2 separate regions of the Homo sapiens genome follow, and region 2 is linked to region 1. The links come from fine-mapping of genetic effects on gene expression. A gene starts in region 1. The other region holds a variant in brackets. All regions are shown on one strand. Distances are from middle to middle.

Evidence for each region. PIP is the estimated chance that this variant, and not a neighbour inherited with it, causes the effect.
Region 2: its variant is the best candidate, but not a certain one, in a credible set for the expression of CAPS in NK cells (Schmiedel 2018, PIP 0.50).

What each region holds. Positions count from the first base shown.
Region 1 is chr19:5,909,866-5,918,141 of GRCh38, reverse strand. It overlaps CAPS (calcyphosine), which reads right to left and starts at 3,888. Exons shown (of 5, transcript NM_004058.5): 1 at 3,833-3,888; 2 at 3,653-3,757; 3 at 3,402-3,579; 4 at 2,996-3,202; 5 at 1,931-2,921. The coding sequence starts at 3,735. The coding sequence ends at 2,820. VMAC (vimentin type intermediate filament associated coiled-coil protein) reads right to left here. Exons shown (of 2, transcript NM_001017921.4): 2 at 7,289-8,276. It overlaps RANBP3 (RAN binding protein 3), which reads left to right. Exons shown (of 17, transcript NM_007322.3): 16 at 162-348; 17 at 489-2,003. The coding sequence ends at 532.
Region 2 is chr19:5,877,758-5,886,080 of GRCh38, reverse strand. No RefSeq gene overlaps it. Among named protein-coding and RNA genes, the nearest start is that of FUT5, 11 kb to the right of the region's middle. The variant A/G (reference allele first, on the strand shown) is at 4,898.

The DNA of each region.
Region 1 (8,276 bases):
TCCTTTCGGGGAGAGGCCGGCAGGCCCAGGGCCAATGGCCTCCCCACAAGGCCTTGTGGCAGTGTCACCTCTGAACCTTGGGACTTGGCACTTGTGTTCTGCAGAAGGCAGGAGGGGGTAGGACTGGGGTCCGGGGGTCTCATACCCTCCTCCCTTCCCAGGCCAGCTCCAAGGACACAGGTCAGTTGTATGCAGCCCTGCACCACCGCATCCTGGCCCTGCGCAGCCGCGTGGAGCAGGAGCAGGAGGCCAAGATGCCCGCGCCTGAGCCTGGGGCAGCCCCATCCAACGAGGAGGACGACAGCGACGATGACGATGTCCTGGCTCCTTCAGGGGCCACCGCAGCTGGTGAGTCGGGTGGTCCCTACCCTGGGGGGGATAGAAAGAGCTGCCCGCCATCCTTGATCCAGTGCTGATCTCCTGGCGGGGGTGGCCAGACCTGGGAAGTGCGGGCTCCATCCTGATGCGGGGCTGCTGCTTCCCTGCAGGTGCTGGTGACGAAGGGGACGGGCAGACGACCGGGAGCACATAGCGGCCGGGAGCCCGGCTGCACACCAGGCTGCTGCTTTGTCCGTCTATCCACCCGCCCACCCGCCCCCACCCCACCGGCAGCGTCCAGGTGCGGGGCCGGGAACCACACACCCCACTGGGCCGGCCACAGTCTGGACCCGCACGTCCTGTTCAAAAGCAGACTCGGGAACTGCCTGAATGTGGTTTGGGACACGAGACCTCATCATATTGATGAGCGAACAAACAAGAACATTTCCTCCCTCCCCTCCTTTGAATTGAAATGGCACATTAAGACTTGTCACGGCTTCTCACTGGGACTGGAGACCTCGTTCCTTCACCCCGCGTGTCGCCAGCCTCTGGGTCCAGCCAGAGCCCCTGGCTTCTCCGCCACCCACACCCTTCCCACCCTGCTGTGGGGCCCTGCCTTTGTGGGGAGCAGCCAGCCCTCTGCCCCTGCCCAGGGCTCCCCAACTATAGGCCTGGGACCCCCGCCCAGCTTGGGGGGCTGCTCGTACGAGTGTAGACACTGGGCCCATTGGACGTGCTGTTAACTACTATCTTCATTTCCCACTTCCCCTCTCTGATTGGGGGTGTATATTTTACATCTTTTTTTCTTTTTATTTTCGAAGGCTTTGTTTTGGTTTCTTAGGTTAAGATGCTCTCGAGCGTTGAGCAGGCACAGCTCTGTCGAGGTCCCTGTCCCCCACCTGTGGTTCTGGCCTCTGAGGTTGGGGGACTACTTGTTTCCCACCCCAGGTTCCTCCAGGCCAAGTCATGGGGTGATGAGGAGTTGGGGCCCTGTCTGTCCTAGGCCTGGAGAGTGCCTGTCTGGGAAAAGGTCACTGGACCTGGAAGGGTCCCCAGGGTCCCCTGACTCCCGTCTCCATCTGTCACGTGGTTCACCATCATCAGGCACCAGGCGCAAACTGCTTCCCGCTGTTGGCCATCCCTTCCCCAGCCACAGGTGTCCCTGCCCCCAGGACAGTCCAGGGCCAGGGGCTTCTGTGAGAGGCAGAGGGGGACCCTCACCAAATCTTGGTGGAAGAGCCCAGGGGCTGGTCCCAGAACAGGCAGTCTCACAAGCACGCAGCACACTGGAGTGGACGCCTGTGCCCACCCGAGCCTGGAGCATGGCCAAGAGCCAGCTTGCACCACCCACCTGGGAGGCCGAGGAGGAGGTCCCCTGGGCACAGGGCCTCTTTGGGACTTCAGAGGAAATCTCCCAGTCCCACTCTCGGAGGGTTAAGAGAAGGCCTCCTGCAGCTGTGCCGTCCACACCTCTAGGTCGCCAGAGCCCTGGCCCCCAGCCCCCAGCAAGCCTGAGCCCGGGAAGAACCAGAGGCCCTCCCGAGAGACCCAGTCACACGTCTCTGCTTTAAGCCTTAGCCAGCTAGTGACGAGTACAACGAGATAACGCCCATGTGTTTTGGAACATTTATGTAAGATTGTCATATGAAATGTATTTGGGAACTACATTAAACTTTTAACTAAAACCCTGGCCTCTGCATGCCCCAGGGGCCTCAGGAAGCCCCTGACCAGGAACGGCCTCCACCTCCCCGGGCGAGGACCTCCAGCAGCCTGGGGCCTCATGCTCCCACCCAGCGTGTCACCAGTGCTGGGGTCCAGCCACAGCCCTGTTCTCTCCACCACCACCCGCACTTTACCCCCACCCCTGCTGCAAGGCCCCGCCGGTCTGCCCCCGCCCAGAGCTCCCAGCCTCGGGCCGCTCACCAGAATGTAGATACTGGGCCCGCTGGACATGTTACCTGCTATTTTTATTCCCCATTTGCCATCTTCTGATTGGGGGTTGATGTTTTACAGATTTTTTTTTCAAAGGCTTTATTTCAGTTTCTGAGGTTAGGATGCCCCTGTGCCCCTCGCTCCACACCTGGGCAGGTCTAAACTTCCTTCCAGGATGGCCTCCACACACAGCCTCCCACCTGGGGTCACCTGGCTTCCTGGGGGACCCGCAAGGGAGGGGCAGGGAGCAGCAGTCCGGGTGCGGGGATCGGGGGACCTCGGCGGGGGCATCCACAGGGGCTGCAAGATCTCTGGTCAGCATGGCGTGGGTGGGGAGAGCGTTTCTCCCTGGGGTCCTGAGCCAGTGACTCCTGTTAGGACCTTTGTCCCACCTCCGCCTGGTGGACCGGCAGGGACCTGGTCTAGCCAGTCCTGCAGCCTCCATTCCCCCACCTGCCCCTCCCCGCTCTGTGGTGTGGCTGCCCAGGAGAGAAGGGGCCCAGGGAAGGGAGGTCTCCGGCAGGGGTGGGGAGTGACAGGCCAGGGCAGCAGGGCTGAGCCGGAGCTGCTCACAGCTGCCAGGCACTGGTCATCATGGCCACGAACTCCTCATCCGTGTTCATGGAGGCACTCACGCCGCTGTAGTAGTCCTGGAATTCCGCCAGTGTGACCTGGGAACAGAGGGCCGTGAGGGGGCACGGCCGAGGAACTGCCTGGGGAGGGGGCCCCCCGCGCAGCCACCCACCTGCCCGTCCTTCTCAGAGGAGTCGAAGTTGTCCAGGAAGCGGCGCAGCACCTCGTCCTCGGTCCACTCCCCACTGCGCACCTTGGGGTGGGCACGGCCACTGTACACCCCGCGGAGGTCGTCCACCGTCACGACGCCGTCCCCACTGCGGTCCAGCTTGGCAAATGCAGCTGCGATGACAGCCTCCCGGGCCTGGGACATGGGGGGCTGGGACAGGAGGTGGTGACTGGGGGTGGTGGGTAGCACACCCAAACCCCCAAGACGCTGTGCAGAGCACTGGGGCTGTATGCCCCAGCAGGCGCCTCTTAACAGCAGCTCTTAGGGAGGAGTCCCCGTCTCCGCATCTCAGCATCCTCTGTCGCCCCATGCCCAGGGCACACGCCTTGACTGTGAGGTGGGGGCTCACCCGCAGCGCCCGAAGGAACTCCTCCAGATCCAGCGTCCCGCTGCCATTGCGGTCCCACTTCCTGCACACACCCTCTGCCTCCGCCTGGTCCAGCACCAGCCCGAGTTTGGCCAGACCCTGCCGGAACTCATCAGCGTCCAGGGATCTGCTCCCGTCCCGGTCTAGTTGGCGGAAAAACCTGGAGGCAGGGGACACGGTTGGAACAGTGGTCTCAGGGGCCGGGGTCAGGAAGGTGAGAGGGGACAGCTCACCTGGCCAGGCCCTGGATGCCCGAGGCCCCGCGGGACAGGCACTGTGCCCGGAGTTTCTCCATGGTGGCATCCACGGCGTCCATGCTTGGTCTGGGCTCTGGGCAGCTGGAAGGGAGAGAGGTCAAGGTGGGGACTCCCGCAAGCCCACCCTGGCCGACTGCCCCTTGTTCAGATGCTCACCTGGCCTGCGTCTGTCCCAGAGTCCTGCCTGCGGGGCCTTGTGTTAGCTGTGTTGTGCCTGGGGAGACTGTTGCTAGTGGAAGGTGCCTCTGGAGATGGGGTGGGGCCCAGCTGCATGAATGCACTGTGCTGGGCAGTGGGGAGTGGGGGAGGGATGGGTGCGCCCAGCCTGACTGCTTACTCAACTGCCAGCCCCACAGGGCCTGGGACAGAGCCAGATCCCTGTGGCACTGCATCCCTTCCTGGCTCCAAGGAGGAGGGGCAGGCCACTGCCCTGCAGGGGCTGAAATGCCCTGGATGGAGACAAGTCCGTGGCTGGGGAGGCTTGACGCATGATTCCTGTGTGACCCTGGACAGGTCCCTTTCCCTCTCTGGCTTCACAGGGGCTTCTCAGCCCGAGCCAGGGCTGACAAAATTGCTGAGGAATCAAAGTTCAAAAGGGCCCCAGGTTCTGACCGGCCACTGCGGCTCATGCCTGAAATCCCAGCACTTTGGGAGGTCTAGGTGGGAGGATCACTTGAGCCCAGGAGTTTGGACCAGCCTGGGGAACATATAGAGAACTTGTTTCTATTGTACAGCAACAAAAATGCCCCAGGTGGGCTGGGCGCGGTGGCTCATGCCTGTAATCCCAGCACTTTGGGAGGCCGAGGTGGGCAGATCACAAGGTGAGGAGTTTGAGACCAGCCTGACCAACATGGTGAAACCCCGCCTCTACTAAAAATACAAAAATTAGCCGTGCATGATGGTGGGCGCCTGTAATCCGAGCTACTTAGGAAGCTGAGGCAGGAGAATCGCTTGAACCCAGGAGGTGGAGCTTGCAGTGAGCCAAGATTGCACCACTGCACTCCAGTCTGGGCGACAGAGCAAGACTCCATCTCAAAAAGAAAAAAAAAAAAAAAGCCCCAGGTGGCCCAGGTCCTGGGGCCCTAAGACCTCCCACCCAGGCCCACCTCCAAGGGCAGGTCCTGCAACCCACAGAGACTGAGCTGAGCCTGAGGGACACCTCTGCTCACTGCCACAAAGCTTGTCACTGGCCGTTGTTAGGAGCCAGTCCCAGGATTTCTGTCTTTACGGATCTTTTGTTGTTGGTTTTCAGGCCTGAAACGTGACTTAGTGGGCTGGCTCCTGACAAGGTGGTGAGCCAGAGGTTGTGACCCCGAGTGGAAGAGCAGCCCTGATCCTGGACATAAACCTCAAGAGACGAAGCCACCTCACTGAAGGCCTTCAACGGAGACATCGGATATACCTGCCCGCTAAGATAGGTGGGTTTTCCAGGACTTGAAACGTGGGCCCTGTTTGAGGACCCACTGTTCGCCCCGACCCAAGGATCATCAATCGGAGCCTTCTCCAAGCCTGGCTTTACCTCGCTCACAGCACAATTATATTGTCAGAAGTTGCCTTGCCTGAGCGCGGTGGCTCATGCCTGTAATCCCAACACTTTGGGAAGCCAGGGCAGGAAGATCACTTGAGCCCAGGAGTTTGAGACCCGCCTGTGCAACATAGTGAGACCCCCCCATCTCTACAAAAACTACAAAAAATTAGCCAGGCATGGTGGTGTGTTCCTGTAATCCCACCTACTTGGAAGGCTGAGGCAGGAGGATCACTTGAGCCCGGGAGTTGGAGGCTGCAGTGAGCTATGATCGCACCACTGCACTCCAGCCTGGGTTACAGAGCAAGACGCCCGCCTCTTAAAAATAAGTAAATAAACTGGCCGGGCACGGTGGCTCACGCCTGTAATCCCAGCACTTTGGGAGGCCGAGGCGGGCAGATCATGAGGTCAGCAGTTCGAGACCAGCCTGGCCAACATGGTGAAACCCTGTCTCTACTATAAATACAAAAATTAGTCAGCCGGGTGCGGTGGCTCATGCCTGTAATCACAGCACTTTGGGAGGCCGAGGCAGACAGATCACCTGAGGTCAGGAGTTTGAGACCAGCCTGGCCAACATGGTGAAACCCTGTCTCTACTTAAAATACGAAAAACTAGCTGGGCGTGGTGGTATGTGCCTGTAATCCCAGCTACTCGGGAGGCTGAGGCAGGAGAATTGCATGAACCTGGGAAGCGGAGGTTGCAGTGAGCCGAGATCGTGCCATTGCACTCCAGACTGGGGGACAAGAGCAAGACTTTGTCTCAAAAAAAAAAAAAGAAAATTAGCCAGGTATGGTGGCGGGTGCCTGTAATCCCACCTACTCCAGAGGCTGAGGCAGGAGAATCACTTGAACCCAGGAGGCAGAGGTTGCAGTGAACCAAGACCATGCCACTGCACCACAGCCTGGGCGACAGAGTGAGACTCTGTCTCAAAAATAAATAAATAACTTAAAAAAAGAGGCCAGGGCTGGGCGCGGTGGCTCACAGCTGTAATCCCAGCACTTTGGGAGGCTGAGGTGGGCGGATCACTTGAGGTCAGGAGTTCAAGACCAGCCTGGCCAACATTTTGAAACCCCATCTCTACTAAAAAAAATAAATAGCTGGGCATGGTGGTGCATGCCTGTAATCCCAGCTACTCAGGAGGCCAAGGCAGGAGAATCACTTGAACCCTGGAGGCAGAGGTTGCAGTGAGCCTAGATCACACCACTGTACTTCAGCCTGGGTGGCAGGGTGGCAGAGCCAGACTCCGTCTCAAAAAAAAAAAAAAAAAAAAGTTGCCTTTGGAGTCTGAAACCAATCTGTAGGTTACAGGCATCCCAGCATCTTGATTCAGGCCACCACTGATGTAACATCATCAGTTTTATGAGAAATCATGGTGACATCTGGCTGCCAAAATCCTGGTGGCTCACTGCAATCCAGAATTATTTAAATAGGCAGAGAAATACTTTCATGTCTATGAGTGTTACAAGCAGCATTTTTTTTTCTGTGTAGAGAACTATAAAATATAACCACTATTACTGAAGTGCTGTTTTGGCATCTCATTTGTAAATGTTTAGTAAGAATTTCTTGGGAGGCCAATGCGGGAGGATCACTTGAGGCCAGGAGTTCAAGACCAGCCTGGGCAATGTAATGAGACCTTATCTCTAGAAAAAATGCAAAAACGCAGCCAGGCATGGTGGCATATGCCCATGGTCCCAGCTACTTGGCAGGCTGAGGTAGCATGATAGCTTGATCCCAGGATTTTTTTTTGAGACGGAGTCTCCCTCTGTCGCCCAAGCTGGAGTGCAGTGGTACAATCTCGGCTCACTACAGCCTCCATCTCCCGGGTTCAAGTGATTCTCCTGCCTCAACCTCCCGAGTATCTGGGATTACAGGCACGCGCCACCACACCCGGTTAATTTTTGTGTTTTTAGTAGAGACGGAGTTTCACCATGTTGGTCAGGCTGGTCTTGAACTCCTGGCCTCAGGTGATCCACCTGCCTTGGCCTCCCAAAGTGCTGAGATTATAGGTGTGAGCCACTGGCCCAGCCAAGACCAGGATTTTGAGGCTGCAGTGAGTTGTGATCACACCATTGCACTCCAGCCTGGGCAACAGTGAGACTTTGTCTCTTTAAAAAAAAAAGAAAGAAAGAAAGAAAACAGAATTTCAGCAATAACTTCCCCCAGAATTGGAAGTGGCCCTGGCCCTCCAGACCCGGAGTGTGTTCCCTTCACACCTCTGGGCCTCTGTTTGTTGTTGTTGTTGTTGTTGTTGTTGTTGTTGTTGTTTTCTTTGAGACTGAGTCTCACTCTGTCTCCCAGGCTGGAGTGCAGTGGTGCAATCTCCACTCACTGCAACCTCCGCCTCCCGGGTTCAGTAGCTGGGATTACAGGCACCCGCCACCAAGCCCGGCTAATTTTAGTATTTTTAGTAGAGACGGGGTTTCACCATGTTGGCCAGGGTGGTCTCGAACTCCTGACCTCAGGTGATCCACCCGCATCCCAAAGTGCTGGGATTACAGGCGTGAGACACCGCGCCCGGCCTGGGCCTCACTTTCCACAGCTGTAAAATGAGGACAAAGCCTGTGTCTACAGGGAAACTCGAAGATTAGATGCAATCGCTGTAGAGAGTGCTTGGCCTACACTCCCTAGATTCTACCTGGCCCAGCAGGACCCTACCAGGAGGCACAAATAACACAGAGGGCCTCCCTCTTGCCCCCAGGCCAGGAAATCATCCGGTTTATTCTTGAGCACAGACAGGCCCCAGCCTGCCTTTCCTTTGTACAAACAACCCCCCTCCTTGTTCATCCAGAGGAGAAAATGGGCCCATTGTTACTGCACTGAGGGGTCACTGTTGCCAGGCAGGCAGGCGGGCGCCATCCTGAAGGCCGTGGGTGGCCTCCGACCTTTCTGGTCTGAAACAGGCTGTGCCCCTCGCCGGTTCCTGGTGTGACAGTTCCTGAGTGAGGAGGTAGGGGAATGGCTGCCGACCAGGCCAGGGTGACAGGCTGGCCCAGAAAGGCACAGGAGTTTTCTCCTTTCCCTGGTTTGACAACAAGCAAAGCACCCTGAATGTCCTGGGCTAAGAAGGACAGCGCA
Region 2 (8,323 bases), 32 kb after region 1:
ATTTTTTTTTTCTCAGCACTTTTTTTTTTTTGAGACGGAGTCTCGCTCTGTCGCCCAGGCTGGAGTGCAGTGGCGCCATCTCGGCTCACTGCAAGCTTTGCCTCCCGGGTTCACGCCATTCTCCTGCTTCAGCCTCCCGAGTAGGTGGGACTACAGGCGCCCGCACCAAGCCCGGCCAATTTTTTTGTATTTTTAGTAGAGACGGGGTTTCACTGTGTTAGCCAGGATGGTCTTGATCTCCTGACCTCATGATCCTCCGGCCTCGGCCTCCCAAAGTGCTGGGATTACAGGCATGAGCCACCGCGCCCGGCCTTTCTCAGTATGCTTTCTAAAATGCATTTTACAGTTTATCCTCCTTCTTTTAGAGGTAAGACAGACGCATGCCATAGAATTCAAAAGATTCTAGAGGGTGTTTAGAATAAATACCAGCCACTCCCCAAGCCCCACGCCATCCCCAGAGGCCATTAGTCGGTTTCTTGTTTCTCCTTCCAGCCATGTTCCACGCCAAAACAAGCATGTCTGTATATTTTCTTTTCCCCACGGAAACAACATCACACTCCCCGTACTTTCTTGCAGCTCAGCGTAGTTGACTCCTAACAATGCATCTCGGATCTTTTCTTCGAGTGCAGAACTTCCCCCTCTTTTGTAAGGACAGTGTAATATTCCATCTTGAGGCTGGACCATTGTTCTGGTGAAAGCACATGTCCTGGCCTCCAGTCTTCTGCTACTATACACCGGGCAGCAATGAAGAAATTTTTTTTTTTTTTTTTGAGACGGAGTCTCACTCTGTCACCCAGGCTGGAGTGCAGTGGCACAATCTTGGCTCACTGCAAGCTCCGCCTTCCCTGTTCACACCATCGTCCTGCCTCAGCCTCCCGAGTAGCTGGGACTACAGGTGCCTCCACCACGCCCAGCTAATTTTTTGTATTTTTAGTAGAGACGGGGTTTCACCGTGTTAGCCAGGATGGTCTCGATCTCCTGACCTTGTGATCCGCCTGCCTCGGCCTCCCAAAGTGCTGGGATTACAGGCATGAGCCACCGAGCCCAGCCAAGAAATTGTAATAAATGTCATTTTTGGCTGGATGTGGTGGCTCACGCCTGTAATCCCAGCACTTTGGGAGGCCAAGGTGGGCAGATCACCTGAGCTCAGGAGTTTGAGACCAACCTGGCCAATGTGGTGAAACCCCATCTCTACTAAAAATACAAAAAATTAGCCGGGCATGGTGGCGCATGCCTGTAATCCCAGCTACTTGGGAGGCTGAAACAGAAGAATCACTTGAACCTGGGAGGTGGAGGTTGCAGTGAGCTGAGATCAGGCCATTGCACTCCAGCCTGGGCGACAGAGCAAAACTCCATCTAAAAAAAAAAAAAAAGTTCATAGTTGACATGAGGGTTCACTCTTGGTGTTGTATGCATATGTTCTGTGGGTTTGGATGAATGTGTAATGACATATGTCTACCATTTAACAGTATCATGCAGAGTAGTTTCACTACCCTAAAAATCCACTGTGCTCTGCCTGTTCGTCCCTTCCTCCCCCAGCCCCTGACAGCCACTGACCTTTTCACCGTCTCCATAGTTTTCCTCTTTCGGGAATATTCTGTAGCTAGAATCATACAGTGTGTCACCTTTTCAAATGGGCTTCTTTCACTCAGTAATATGCATTGAAGGGCTGGGCGTGTTGGCTCACGCCTGTAATCCCAGCACCTTGGCAGGCGGAGGGAGGCCTGAAGTCAGGAGTTTGAGACCAGCCTGGCCAAGATGATAAAACCCCATCTCTACTAAATATACAAAAATTAGCCAGGTGTGGTGGCCAGCGCCTGTTATCTCAGCTACTCAGGAGGTTGAGGCAGGAGAATCGCTTGAACCCAGGGAGTGGGGGAGAGTTTGCAGTGAGCCAAGATTGTGCCACTGCACTCCAGCCTGGGCAACAAGAGCGAAACTCCGTCTCAAAAAAAAAATGCATTTAAGGTTCCTCTGTGTCTTTTCATGGCTTGACAGCTCATTTCTTTTTAGCACTGAATTTTATATTTTATATAGATATAGATATAGATATATAGATATAGATATAGATGGAGTCTTCCTCTTTCACCCAGGCTGGAGTGCAGTGGCGCGATCTCAGCTCACTGCAATGTCTGCTTGGGTTCAAGAGATTCTCCTGCCTCCTGAATAGCTGGGACTACAGGTTCGTGCCGCCACGCCCAGCTAATTTTTGTATTTTTAGTAGAGACAGGGTTTCCCCATGTTGACCAGGCTGGTCTCGAACTCCTGACCTTAGGTAATCTGCCCGCCCCTGCCTCCCAAAGTGCTAGGATTACAGCCGTGAGCCACCGTGCCCAGCCTGAATAAAATTTTGTCATCTGAGCACACCACAGTGTTCTTACCCATTCTCCTGCTGAAGGACATCTTGGCTGCTTCCCAATCTTGGCAACTGTGAATAATGCTGCTGTAAACATCTGTGTGCAGGTTTTTGTGTGGATGTTAGGTTTTCAGCTCCTTTGGGTAAATACCTAGGAGTACCATTTCTAGGTCTCATCCTAAGAGTATGTTTAGTTTTATAAGAAACTGCCAAACTGTTCCAAAGCGGCTGTACCATTCTGCATTCTCACCGGCAATGAATGACACTCCCTGTTGCTCCCTGTCCTCAGGGGTTCGGGGCATTTGGGGTTGCTGTTGGCAGGGCTTTGGATTTGGCCATTCTAATAGGGGTGTAGGGACATTTTTTTTCTTTTTTTTTTTTTCTTTTTTGAGACAGAGTTTCATTCTTGTCGCCCAGGCTGGAGTGCAATGGTGCGATCTCAGCTCACCGCAACCTCTGCCTCCTGGGTTCAAGCGATTCTCCTGCCTCAGACTCGTGAGTAGCTGGGATTACAGGCATGCGCCACCATGCCTGGCTAATTTTGTATTTTTTAGTAGAGATGGTGTTTCTCCATGTTGGTCAGGCTGGTCTCAAACTCCCGACCTCAGGTGATCTGCCCGTCTCAGCTTCCCAAAGTGCTGGGATTACAGGCGTGAGCCATCATACCTGGCCGTTTCTTTTTTTCTTTTTTTTTCTTTTTTTTTCTTTTTTGAGGCAGAATCTCACTCTGTTGACCAGGCCGGAGTGCAATGGCGTGATCTCGGCTCACTGCAACCTCCACCTCCTGAGTAGCTGGGACTACAGGTGTGTGCCATCACACCCAGTTAATTTTTGTATTTTTAGTAGAGATGGGGTTTTTCCAGTTTGGCCAGGATGGTCTCGATCTCTTGACCTCGTGATCTGCCCGCCTTGGCCTCCCAAAGTGCTGGGATTACAGATGTTAGTCACCGCACCCAGCCTTGTCTGTTTGTTTGTTTTTTAAGAGACAGGATCCCCCTTTGTCATCCAGGCTAGAGTGCCCAAGAGAGAGGAACAACATGTGTGATAGCTCAGAGGAGAGACAGAAAGGGGAGTGGCTAAGAGCATGGAAGAGTACGAGGTTCTAGATCCTTCTCTGGGTGTCAGTTTCCACTCCTTAGCCGTGAGCCACTCTCTTGAGCAAGTCTGGCAGATGGGAAGCTGGAAGGTCAAGGCTGGGGCATCCATCCTACCCCTGCCTGGATATGGGGAGGCAGGAGTGCCAGAGCAGCCCCCTCTGCGTCTGGGGGGCCCAGCAGGACCCCGTCCAGGTGGAGATTGGGAAGGGTGAAGGCATCCAGAGGTGCTTCCCTGGACTCCTGCCTCGACAGGAAAGGAAATGGCAGGGTGGGGGTGGCAGAAGTCTGTTTCCCGCCCCTGCCCCAAATTGGATGCTTCCTGCCCCAGGCCAGCTCCTTGGTGGGCCGGGACCCCTTTCCCACCCATTACTGCCTCTCTAATGGGGGCCTCACCCCCATTAGTGAGGCCGCCCACTGCAAGCCTGGGAGTCCCAGGTGTTCCCAGCCCACACTCCCCCTGCCGAGTGACCGTTAAAGATGAATAATGAGCCTGGCAGGAGGGACCTGGGAGGTGGTGATGAGGGGCTGGCCCAGCGGGTGAGGGCCAGGGAGGCCCCGAAGCCTCCTCCATCTGGCTGGTCCCGGAGGCACCTGGGAAGCCCATTAGGAAGGCGTCGCGTCCTGGAAGCCACCTGAGCGCCTGGTGTGGCTCTGATTTCACCTCCTTAATGCCTGCCTTTGCTCTTAGCACCTGCCCGCTACAGGGACTGCCCCCCACCCCCACCCAGCTGAAGTCATCAGAGTTAGCAAATAAAAATCCAAGACATCCAGTTAAGTTTGGATTTCAGATAGATCATGAATCACGGCTTGGCGTAAGTATATCCCATGCAATTCTTGGGATATACTTACAGCATCATTCATTCCTTTTTTTTTTTTTTTTTTTTGAGATGGAGTTTTGTTCTGTTGCCCATGCTGGAGTCCGGTGGCGCGATCCTGGCTCACTGCAACCTCCACCTCCCAGGTTCAAGCGATTCTCATGCCTCAGCCTCCCAAAGTGCTGGGATTATAGGCATGAGCAACTGCACTGGTCTGGAGTGGATCTTTTTTTTAATTTTTTTTTTTAATTTTTTTGAGACAGAGTCTCGCTCTGTCGCCCAGGCTGGAGTGCAGAGGCACAATCTCAGCTCACTGCAACCTCTGCCTCCCGGGTTCAAGTGATTCTTCTACCTCAGCCTCCTGAGTAGCTGGGATTACAGATGCACGTCACCACGCCCAGCTAATTTTTGTGGAGTGGATGTATTTTAATATCTCACCATCTGCACGAGGTTTCCACAGCCCACCAGCCCTGTCCCCGCCCCCTCCTTGACCCTTCCCTGGCTCAATGAGGGTGTTTTAGGTCCCCAGCAGGTCACTGGCACAGCAGGCATCTCTTGGAATTTGCACAAAAAGACCCAAAGTTACTGTAACTCTGGAAACCTCTGGAGAGGTCCCTAGGGGAGAGTGA[A/G]TGAGGGGCCGCATGCCCGCCTCCGCCAAGGACTCATCGCTCAGGGTCTCTTTCATCTCCCCTGGCTTTCAGGGAGACCTCCAGGTGAGAACACACTCCCTGAATCCCAGGTTCGAGTCCTGACTCTGCTGCTTTTGAGTTTTGTGGCTATCAGCCTCCCTTTTTCTCGGTGCCTTGGTTTCCTCACCTGCAAAATGGGGATAAATCACAATGCCATTACTGATAGCAGCTGTCGGGGTTGTTGAGAGGACCACGTGCATTGATTTCTTCAAGGAGCTTTGTCCGGCATACAGCGCTCACTTAAGTGATGGCCGGGGCCCCAGCCTCCCTCCTGGCCCAGGGGGAGGGGCTGAGCGGGAAGTGGAGGTTAATTTTAGCCCTGATGACACCCGCTGGCCGCCTGCCTTGTCCAAACATCCCCAGCCAGGCGTGAGGTTCAAAGTGTCCCCCCACCCCCAGCCTCTGACATCCAAGGAGCCTGTTTATTCATTCTCGTCTGCGGCAGCATTCTTTGCCTGCCTGTGCCTGCCACCCGGCCTCCTCCATCTCCAGCCCTGCGAGGTCCTGCCCTGTGTCACTGGGGGTGAGGACTACCTCACCTGCAGATTCCCCTGAGGCAGGCTGTAATCTCTGGGGTGGTCGGTGGGGGGTGGGGAAGGGGCAGGGGGAGGGTCACTCCTGCCCCAGAGTCCAAAGATCTTCAGTCTTCGTTTATAATTCTCCAAGTGGGAGTTCAAGCTTCCATCACAGACAAGGACATTTATTCAGCACCTGTTTACTGAGTGCCTACTGGGTGCCAGGTCATACTGGGGACCCAAGCCCTGCCCCATGAGCCGCCCAATCTGGGGAAGACACTGACAAACCAAGAAATAAACAAGATCTTTTTTTTTTTTGAGACGGAATTTCACTCTTGTTGCCCAGGCTGGAGTGCAATGGCACAATCTCGGCTCACCACAACCTCCACCTCCCGGGTTCAAGTGATTCTCCTGCCTCAGTCTCCTGAGTAGCTGGGATTACAGGCGTGCACCACCACGCCCGGCTAATTTTGTATTTTTAGTAGAGAGAGGGTTTCTCCATGTTGCGGGGAGTGTATGGAGACGCCACCTTGGGAAGAGATGCGCCAGAATTTGCAGTCCTCTCCCTCCCTGTTGGAGTACCCTGGAGGATAGAAATTTTTCCCTACCCGGAGTCTCAGAATGTTCCAAAGACCTCAACTGGTCTCAAACTCCCAACTTCAGGAAGTCCCCCCACCTTGACCTCCCAAAGTGCTGGGATTATAGGCCTGAGCCACCGCGCCTCACCAATTTTTTTTTTTTTTTTTTTTTTGAGACGGAGTCTCTTGCCCAGGCTGTAGTGCAGTGGCGCGATCTCAGCTCACTGCAACCTCCGCCTCCCAGGTTCGTGCAATTCTTGAGCCTCAGCCTCCCAAGTAGCTGGGATTACAGGCGCTCACCATCCCGCCCAGCTAATTTTTCTATTTTGAGTAGAGACAGGGTTTCACTGTGTTGGCCAGACTGGTCTCGAACTCCTTACCTCGTGATCCACCCACCTCAGCCTCCCAAAGTGCTGGGATTACAGGCGTGAGCCCCTGTGCCTGGCCTATTTATTTTCGCTTATTTATTTATTTATTGAGTGAGTGAGTGAGACAGAGTTTTGCTCCGTCGCCCAGACTGGAGAGCAGTGGCGTGATCTCATCTTACTGCAACCTCCACCTCCAACCTCCACCTCCTGGGTTCAGGTGATTCTCCTGCCTCATCCTCATGAGTAGCTGGGATTACAGGCACCCACCACCATGCCCAGCTCATTTTTTGTAAGGCTCTGCCCTTGTTCTGAAGTCAAATCTCAACACTGTCTCCCTCTGGGAGGGGGAGTGACCAGAGGCTACAGCTGGGCTGAGGGACTGAGTGGCTGCAGGTGGATACCAAATATAAATTGAGGTCTTTGGAACATTCTCAGAGTCTGGGTAGGGGAAAATTTCTACTCTTCAGAGAACGCCAACAGGGACAGAGTGGACCGTAACTCCTGGTGCATCTTCCCAAGGTGAGTGGCATCTCCATACACTCCCTGCAGGGCTGGCCCAGGTGCCCAGGTCGCTGGCTCTACTGGCTGTAATTTTTGCCGATGGAGAGACAGGTGCTTAGAAACCTTGAAAACATCGCCTGAAAACAAACCAAGAAAATTATGCTTTTTGGCCCGGTGCGGTGGCTCACTGCTGTAATCCTAGCACTTTGGGAGGCCAAGACAGACTGATCACGAGGTCAGGAGATTGAGACCATCCTGGCTAACACGGTGAAACCCCATCTCTACTAAAAATACAAAAAATTAGCTAGGCGTCGTGGCGCGTGCCTGTAATTCCAGCTACTCGGGAGGCTGAGACAGGAGAATCACTTGAACCCAGGAGGCGGAGGTTGCAGTGGGCTGAGATTGTGCCACTGCACTCCAGCCTGGGCAGGCGACAGAGGGAGACTCCGTCTGGAAAAAAAAAAAAAAAGGAAAGAAAATTATACTTTTCACCTCCAGGTTCCAACAGACCACCTCCTAACCGTTTTCGTTCTCGGAAATACCTTCATTGGGCCGGGTGTGGTGGCTCACGCCTGTAATCTCAGCACTTTGGGATGCCGAGGCGGGCAGATCACTTGAGGTCCGGAGTTCGAGAACAGCCTGGCCAACATAGTGAAACACCATCTCTACTTAAAATACAAAATTTAGCTGGGCGTGGTGGCGGGCATCTGTAATCCCAGCTACTCGGGAGGCTGAGGCATGAGAATTGCTTGAACTCGGTAGTGGGAGGTTGCAGTGAGTCGAGATCGCACCACAGCACTCCAGCCTGGGCGATGGAGCAAGACTCAGTCTCAGAAAGAAAGAAAGAAAGAAAATACCTCCATTAGCTTTTCTGATTCTAAAATTGCCACTCGCACACTTCACAAAACCTTTCCAGAATGAGAGAAAGGCCTCTTTGTTCCCCGGCCCCATGTATTCCCTGGAATTTTCTCTCCCCGGGCAGGGAGGTAAATGCTATTGTTATTTTTTCACACACAAGGTTTTGCAATGGGCTTTATTTCCACTCCACAATAGATGGCCCCACAGCTTTTATTTCTAGAAATTGGAAAATGAAGCGTGTCCAGCCCCCGCCTCTTCACCCACCACAGGCTGAAATTTAAGCTGCATGAACCCAGCTGGGCCTGGGTACCAGGGGTGGGCAGACCTCAGCGTGTTGGTGCCAGGGGACCCGGGGGTGAGGCCAGGGTCAGGTTTCTAGGGGGTGCCAGGTTTCTGTCACCGTCACCTGGGGCTTCCCGCACTCCCTGTCTGTTTAGTGGCCCCAGCACCATGTAGATGAGCAGGGAGAGGCTGAGTTCTTACAAGTATTACAGGAGGGGAAACCGAGGCCCGCAGAGGGCCAGGGACCCAGGCCAAACATTCCAG